3 separate regions of the Homo sapiens genome follow, and regions 2 and 3 are each linked to region 1. The links come from fine-mapping of genetic effects on gene expression. A gene starts in region 1. Each other region holds a variant in brackets. All regions are shown on one strand. Distances are from middle to middle.

What was found. PIP is the estimated chance that this variant, and not a neighbour inherited with it, causes the effect.
Region 2: its variant is fine-mapped to the expression of PICK1 in spleen (GTEx, PIP 0.96).
Region 3: its variant is fine-mapped to the expression of PICK1 in T cells (TOPMed, PIP above 0.99). The same link has a PIP of 0.9 or more in blood mononuclear cells and whole blood.

Annotation. Positions count from the first base shown.
Region 1 is chr22:38,056,163-38,058,662 of GRCh38, reverse strand. It overlaps PICK1 (protein interacting with PRKCA 1), which reads right to left and starts at 1,259. Exons shown (of 13, transcript NM_012407.4): 1 at 1,076-1,259; 2 at 813-910. The coding sequence starts at 853. RefSeq lists enhancers at 558-1,181, 1,426-1,485, 1,182-1,807.
Region 2 is chr22:37,409,530-37,412,370 of GRCh38, reverse strand. All of the region lies in intron 2 of ELFN2 (extracellular leucine rich repeat and fibronectin type III domain containing 2), which reads left to right. Among named protein-coding and RNA genes, the nearest start is that of ELFN2, 17 kb to the left of the region's middle. RefSeq lists an enhancer at 1,320-1,821. The variant C/T (reference allele first, on the strand shown) is at 1,627.
Region 3 is chr22:38,076,099-38,078,939 of GRCh38, reverse strand. It overlaps SLC16A8 (solute carrier family 16 member 8), which reads left to right. Exons shown (of 6, transcript NM_013356.3): 6 at 236-803. The coding sequence ends at 552. LOC105373027 (a long non-coding RNA gene) reads right to left here and starts at 299. Exons shown (of 3, transcript XR_938249.3): 1 at 207-299; 2 at 1-86. The variant C/T (reference allele first, on the strand shown) is at 1,241.

The DNA.
Region 1 (2,500 bases):
GGATGAGCACCCTTATCAGAGTTCTTCTAACCATGCATGGAGGGCACTAACAGCAACCCAGTCCATAGCAGGCACTCCATAAAAATAGGTCCCCCTTCCCTTTCATTTATTCGATCTCTGAGATTTGAGCCAGGTTCTGTCCTTGTCACCTTATCAGGCATCTATGTAGTATGATGGCCACCTACTCCAGGGAGTCTTCCTCTATTAAACTGTCCACCTCCCACCTCTCAACTGCTCGATTACCTCTCGGTTTCCACTATAAATTAGCATTGACTGGTGTTTTATGATAAGTACTCACGCTGATTCACTTATTCATTCAAAAAACATTCGCTAACAACCTACTGACGTCAAGTCCCTTACTAAGTGCTGAGCATAGAGAAAGGCATTGCACCCACTCCTTGATCTGAAAGAGGATATATTCTAATGGGAAAATCTGTCCTACTAACAACCTATGTTGGGAAGGAAGGGTGTCTACAATATTCCTATTCAACCTTCAAAACCTGGTTCAATTGCTACGTCCTCCATGAAGCTTTCCTTGACCATCCCAGCAGAAGCACTGCTCCATCTGCTTTGCTCTTCTTGTCACCAAGTCATGCTAATAGTGCCCTTATGGCACTGAGCTGTGATTATCCCTTTAACTGTCCACAGCCCCCTACAAATAGTGAGCTCCTGGGAGAGCAGGGTCCATTGCTGCTTCAGTACAACAACTGATCCACCGCTGAGAAGCAAGGGTCTGTGGGACTGGGAAGTCCAGGGAAATGAGGAACTTGGGGCTCCTATACTGCTGGAACTTGGGGGAATAAAATACTCACAGTTTATCCTCTTCGATGTCATAATCCAAGTCTGCAAACATGGTTCCGAGAGTTGGAGTGGGCTGGCTAACTGCCCAGCTCGGTAGGGGAATGGGGAACTGGATCCGGGAGAGAAAGGAGCATAGGATTTAAGGAACCCAAGTGCCTAAATGCCAACGCCACCCCTCCCTCCACCACCTCATACGGGACAGCAGTGCCCTCCTCTTCCCTCTGGAGTGGGATGGGACAGTCTCCGGGTGGGGGGCTGGGTAGGTGATTCTTACTAGGTACAAAGGGGGGCTCCAGGCCAGGGCGATAGGCTCAGATCCCAGAGTCCGCCCCACGGGTCTCCAGGCCCTGGGGAGCTGCCTCTGTCGCTCACCGGAAGCGTTGGTCCCACAGCCGGGTCCCGGCCAGGCTGGTACCTGAACCCACCTGCCGTTCCACCTGGCGGTGGCCGCGATTGTCACGTCACTTCCGGCAAGACGCGGAAGTCCCGGCTTTCCCCCCACTGGATATTTGCTCCAATCCCTGCAGACAATCCTTCCCTTCCCGGCTCCCGGGACGCTCGGAACCAAGAACGAGAACAAGTATTGGCGGAAGCTCGCTGTTAGTAGGAACAAGCGAAAACAGAGGAACGGTCTGGACAGGCTGACAGCGTCTAACCCCGCCCTTTGCCCTGCCGCCGCCGCCATCTTGGGAAGGGCAGGGTTTGTCCCAGCTTCCTCAGCTGCACTCAGGGGCCCGCGCCGGCCCGGCGGTTGCCATGGCAACGAAAGCATCCCTGAGCCGGGGTTACCTCCGGCGAGGCTCAGTGGACTATAAACCCCAAGACATCATGCCCTTTCACCCCTTCACCACCTGGGCCTGTGACTCCCCTACTAGAATGGCCCTTTGAGGTCCCAGCCCATCCCAGTTTCGCCAACTTAAGTGCCAAAGAGCGGGGAGTGATTTTGTGCGGGGCCACACACAGTTGGTGTAAGATCTGGATCGTGGCCCTGAAACTCCCGCCGCCTAGTCTAGGGATCTTTGAACGTCCAAACACTAAACAGAGAGCCAGGAGAGGTGTATTCAGTGGGTCTTGCTATTAAGGACAGACTGGACATGCTCCCTTCCCTTTATGTGCCTCAGTTTCCCCATATGTAAACCAAGGCCATTGAGGTAAATGCTTTCTATGGTATATGGTGAAAGGTTTCTCACACCCCCTCCTCCTTCCTTAGTCCTGAGGAGCAGCCCCCCTGGGGTCCCAGGGAGGGTCACGGTCCGCATGTACCTGAGGCTCGGGAAATGCTATCAGTGCTCCCCAGAGTCCGAATCTTGTCTCCTCGCCAGCCTCTGCTGCCACTGCTATTGTGTAAAGTGGGTTCCCTGGGGGAGGTTGGCTCTCCCAGAGCCACAGCCAGGCATCCACCTCATCCGGCAGCATGGGGCCAGGCCCATCCAGCTTGCTTCCCCAGCTGCCCCAGGAGCCATGGAAGAAAGATACAGAAGGATGATTATCCACATATCCCACGGCCGGTGGAAGCCCCGCCCTACTCTCTCCTTAGGTGGCTAATTGAGTCCGGACAGATGTGCAGAATGCCGTGACAATAACAGCCTTCCCACGTGTCCACTGCTCTCCTGTGAGATCACTTTCACAGGATTTGAAAGCTCACCACCACCCTGTGAGAGAAGACCAAATCTTGCCAGCCACATTGTGCAGGCAAGGA
Region 2 (2,841 bases), 650 kb after region 1:
CCAGTCTGAGGGTGGAGGCACTGTGGGTGTGCTGGCCTCAGTTTGCTTTCTTTCTTTTTTCCTTTTCTTTCTTTCTTTTTTTTTTTTTTTTTTGAGACGGAGTTTTGCTTGTTTGCCCAGGCTGGAGAGAAAGCTGAGATTACAGGCGACTGCCACAATGCCCAGAAAATTTTTGTATTTTTATTTTTAGTAGAGACCAGGTTTCGCCATGTTGACCAGGCTGGTCTCGAACTCCTGACCTCAAGTGATACACCTGCCTCGGCCTCCCAAAATGCTGGGATTACAGGCCTGAGTGTACAGACTGAGGCGCCCAACCTCAGTCTGCTTTCTGAATGTCGGAGGAGAGATGGTCCTCTGAGCGGAGGTTCCAAGAGCTCTGGGAAGACTTTTTTTTTGGAAGAGGCAGTCCCTGAGGGCTGGGAGTGGTTGGATTGGGGCAGGGGCTGCAGGAAGGCCTGTTTGGTGGTGGGAAGTGAGACCTTGTGAGTTAGATCCCACGCCTGAGTGGTCACATGTCCTGGTCTCAGTTTTCTTATCTGTGAAATGGGGATACTGCCAGGCTCCTGGAGGGGATGGAGTGAAATAGGATTGGAGATAGGAGTATCTGCACACAGTAGGCCCACAGGGTTGCCAGGGGCTGCGTGAGAAGCTAGAAGCTACTGAGAACCCATAGCCCCATCCCTGTCTCCACACTGGGTCACAGCTCAACCCACCCAGCATAGGAGGTAGGGTGCCCTCTGTGCCAAGCTGGGAGGCAGAGATGAAGGGCTATGTTGCCCTTCCTGCCTCCGCTTGCTGTGTGAGTCTTGCTTGTCCTACACTCCCTCTGGACCTCAGGCAAAGGACAGCCCCTGTCCCAGAGGACATTGTCTGAGGTCTGTGGGGGCACACAGACCTTCTCCGCTTCCCCTCCTCACCCAGGGCTGGGACTCAAGGATGGAGGTGGGGGCTCTCCAGGGACCCCCAAGCATCATCCTGGGAAGAGACCGGCTACAGAGAGGGGTTGGCACTGAGGTGCCCCAATGGTGGTGGCTCAAGGGCCCTTGATCTAAGCAGCGCTTCTGGGGTGAGGCCTTTGCTGCCCCGCTAGACACTCCTTGGCTTGGTGGTCGCAGGTCAGAGTGGAAAAACTCCCAGGCTACAGGATGGGGCGATGCAGTGATCAGGCCCATGGGCCCAGCTGTCAGTTCCCAATTCTACCCATGACAAGTTGCCCCGCCTGTGTGTGCCTCAGTGTCCTCACCTGTCAAGTAGGAATAAAAGTAGTGCCCACCACCCAAGGGTGACACTATGAAGCACTTGGTGCTACGCCTGGCGTGCAGTCAGGAATGCTAGCACTGGGCTTCTTGCTGGCTTTCCTGGTGGTCGGAGCAGGGAGGCAGGCTTCAGGGGCCCTTCTAGAGTCACCTCTGAGGCTGCTGGAGACAGGCTGGGGCCTGTGGAGTCCCGGTTCTGGGTGCTAGGTCAGGAAATGTGGGGGTGTCTGCCCCTGTGGCCCCTCCTACTGCCTGCCGAACAGGATGTCGTGGAAGGAGCCGATGGGCTTTGGAGTAGACGCGTGGGTTCCATCCCAGCTCATTCATATTCATCCCCCGCTGGCCGTGGGGCTCCGGCCCGATCATCCTC[C/T]GCTCCTCGGTTGCTTCGTGTGGTAGAATGGGATCAGGGCTGTGATGGGGATTAGGTGAGATGAGGCAGGAAGACAGCAGTATCCACGCCTGCGGTTTCCGGTCAGTGCCCGGCTCGTCCCTCTCCAATTTGATGCTGGGGCTGATGGCAGGGGAGGGAGGGGCTTTGGGAGTGAGTTCCTGGCTGGGCTGAGATGGCAGCTGACCTGGACGCTGCCCTCAGCACCATCTGGGGAGAGGGGAAGCGGGGGCTCAACAGGGAACCAGGACCCCGGAGTGCTGGAGGGTCGGAGCCAGCAGGTCTCCCACCCACTGCCCGCACTCGTGGGCAGGCTGCAGCCCAGAGAGGTGAGGCGCTGGCTCGGGGCCACACCGCAGTGAGTGGCCAGGCTGAGGGTGGAGACTTGCCGGCTTTCCTCTTGGGCACTTTCACTTCCCGCAGCCCCTGGACCAGCCTAAAGTGGCTGCTCTGAGCAGGATCACCCTAGGGCCTGAGCTGAGCTCATTCGTTCTGTTTCTCTCTCTCTCCCTGTCTCTTTGTCTCTGTCTGCCCACCCATCTCTCTGGCCCTGCCCCGTCTGTTTGCCGCAACCGCCTGTCTCTCAGGCCGCAGGAGAGAGCTGGCTGGATGGAAGCTGGGCACACAAGGGCAGGTGTGTGTGTATGTGTGTGCCCTCGTGATCTTTGTGCATTTGCTGGGTTTTGGAGCATGTATGTGTAAAACAATGCATAAGTATACAAACCCCCTTATACCTGGGGAACTGGCACATGCTCTCGGCGTGCACAGCAGAAAGGAATGGGCCACTGCCTGTTCCCAAGGCCTCCTCCCCAGAGGCTGTCACTGACCCGTGTTTCCTGGTACCTACAAACACACGTACACCATCTGTTCTTACCCAGGAGGGATTCTCCTCGCAGCTGGCCCTGCACCCTCCTGCGGCCCCTGATTGCACCCTGAGCACCCTTCTCAGGGGTGCGGCGGGACCTGGGTCCTAATCCACTTTGGAATGGGCTTTTCTTGAAAGGACATTTCCCTGTTGTGAGTGCCTGGGCTGTTTGCACTTTTTCTACTTTCACCCACTTCAGATCTGAAGTGTCTGACTGCAGAATCAAGCTCCTCTGACCCGGCACGCTGCCCTGGGGCACGGGTGGGCTGGTTTGAGGGGATCTGCTTCCAAGGCTAAGTGTGGACATCTGGGCTCCTCTCGCTGTTGGCTGA
Region 3 (2,841 bases), 20 kb before region 1:
ACATATCACTTAAGCAATTGAGGTCCAGGGACAGCAAGTGACATTTTTAAGGTTTCAAATGGCAGAATCCACATGAGGTTTTACATCTGTAAAACAGGAATAAAGAGTGGGCATGTGTGTGTCACCCAGGAGCCTCACCAAGTCAGTGGCACCACCCTTGACCTGAGAGTGCAGGAGAGTGAGGGGAGGACCCCACAGGACCTTACCTCTCCCTCCTCTTCCTCCTCCTCCCCAGGCCGCCTGGTGGATGTGTTGAAGAACTATGAGATCATCTTCTACCTGGCCGGCTCTGAGGTGGCCCTGGCTGGGGTCTTCATGGCTGTCGCCACCAACTGCTGCCTGCGTTGTGCTAAAGCTGCCCCGTCAGGCCCAGGCACTGAGGGCGGAGCCAGTGACACTGAGGACGCTGAGGCTGAAGGGGACTCTGAGCCCCTGCCTGTTGTTGCAGAGGAACCCGGCAACCTGGAGGCCCTGGAGGTGCTCAGCGCCCGGGGCGAGCCCACAGAACCAGAAATAGAGGCGAGGCCGAGGCTGGCTGCCGAGTCTGTATAACTCAGGGTGCTCTGGGTGGGGTGGCCCAGTGACTTGGGAACACAGCTTCTTGTCTCAGAGAGCCTGGTACGCTGGGAGGCTGGTCTGGGGTGGTCACTCCCGGGGTCCACGTCTGGGCTCCAGTTGATCCCCTGGGTGTCTGGGAACTGCCTCCCTCATCTGTGCCCCAAGTTCCGCCAGGCCCTGCCCCATCGCCAGTGAAGCTGCTATGGAGCAACAGGAAACTGGTGATAAAGCTCAGCTGAACGACAGAAGGTTCTATTCCTCCGCCCAGGCTCCGGCTGCCACCTGAGTTGGGGGTCAGGGTGGTGGGAGGGAGTCTGGGAGGTCTCTCTCCAGGCCCCCTAAGCAGGCTTCTAGGTGGGCAGTGTTGGGAGGAAGCGTCAGAGATGGATGAAGAGACCCATCGTTCCCAGGTGTAGAGACACAAGGGGCTGGGCGGGCACAGGGCTCAGGGGCACAGGGCTGGGTGGGCACAGTGCCTGGCTCCTGCCCAGCCCCACTGCTCAGAGCTGTCTGCTGAAGGCCCCCTCGCTGGCATCTGCCTTTTCCCGTGGAGGGAACGAGGGGTTGGCAGCAACTAGGGTTCAAGGTTGGGGTCTGCCTGCAGGCGGGGGGCCCGAGCGGTCTGAGAAGACTCACAGTTCCCAGGGTCAGGGTCGGTTTGAATCCCAGCCCCGCTGACTTC[C/T]TTGCTCACTGGAGGCTGAGCATACGACTCCGTCCCCTGGGGTCCTGGGGAGGGTGGGACCAGGCGCTCAGTAACACCATGGGCCCTGCTGCCTTCCACGAGGTGGCCATGTCCCCTCACCTTCCCAGAGGGCATCTCTCCCACTAGAGGATAAACTTGGGTGTCCAGGGCCAGGGGCTTTTGCTGTGGACACTGTGCTGGCAGCCAGGTCATCTGCTGATCCCAGCACCTGCCTTCTCCCCACGGAGCGTCCCACGATCTCCCTCACACTTTGACATCTGACCTCCTGCACTTGGATCCAGGTGCACGAATCTGGCAAGACGCGATGTATTCCCTCTATGCATTTATCCTCCTCCCATACATCACACCCCTCCTTTCTTTGCCTCCCTCCGAATCATGAGCGTGGTGAACAGGCCCCTGCAGAGGAAGCCGCCTTCCCTCCGCAAACTCCCCTCACCTTCCAGCCCGGCCCATAGTGACCCCTCCCCACTGGTCCCTGCTGGCCCTCATTTTCCATCTAGGCCCCAGGAAGGTCTGGGGAGCCCCACAGATGCCTGGCCGGCTTCTACTTATATGGCCTGTGGCTTCCCCTGCACCACTAGAGCAGTGACTGCGTTTGACTTTATTATTATTATTTTTTATTTATTTTTTTGAAATGGAGTCTCGCTCTGTTGCCCAGGCTGGAGTGCAGTGGCACAATCTCGGCTCACTGCAAGCTCTGCCTCCCAGGTTCACACCATTCTCCTGTCTCAGCCTCCCCAGCAGCTGGGACTACAGGCCCCCGCCACCACGCCTGGCTAATTTTTTGTATTTTTAGTGGAGACGAGGTTTCACCGTGTTAGCCAGGATGGTCTCGATCTCCTGACCTCGTGATCCGCCCGCCTTGGCCTCCCAAAGTGCTGGGATTACAGGCGTGAGCCACCGCTCCCGGCCCGTCTGACTTTATTTAAGATTTAAGAGTGCTTGCTCTGTGCCAAGCCCTGTTCTAAGCCCTCTCCAGATGTTCATTTAATCTCCTAACAAGCCAATAAGGTAGGTGCCACACTTCAGATAGGGAAATTGAGGCCCAGGGAGGTCAGGAACGAACCCAGGCTGTCAGTTCCAGCCTGTGCTCTTGGCCTCCACTCTGGCTGCCCCCTTCAGGGAGGCAGTGTGGTCTGTCTGATGGCTCTGCGGGGACCCAGGTGGGCTCCTGGTGACAGCCAGCCCCTCCTCCATGTCCCACCCCTGCCAAGCCTCCCATTTGGGTTTCTGCCCAGCAATGCATGCTCAAAGCTGATGCAGAAACCCTTTTTCCATCCTGGACTCAGCCCACCTCGCACACCCTGTTGCCCCCTCGCATTCTCAGGATGGCCATATTCATCGTCCAAACAGGAACACGTTAGAGTGACAAGGGCCACTATGACTGATTACACCAGGCCGAGGCTGGCCAGGAGAAGCAGGAGAAGTGGCCACCCTGTTTCTGCCACTCTGCAGACACTCCCCATGGCCTCTCCCCACGCCCCTCTTCCCACAGCCCCCGAGCACCTCTCCCCACACGCCTTTCCCCACCACCCGGGCAGCACAGGCGCGCCTGGAGTCAGCACTTACCCCTCACCACC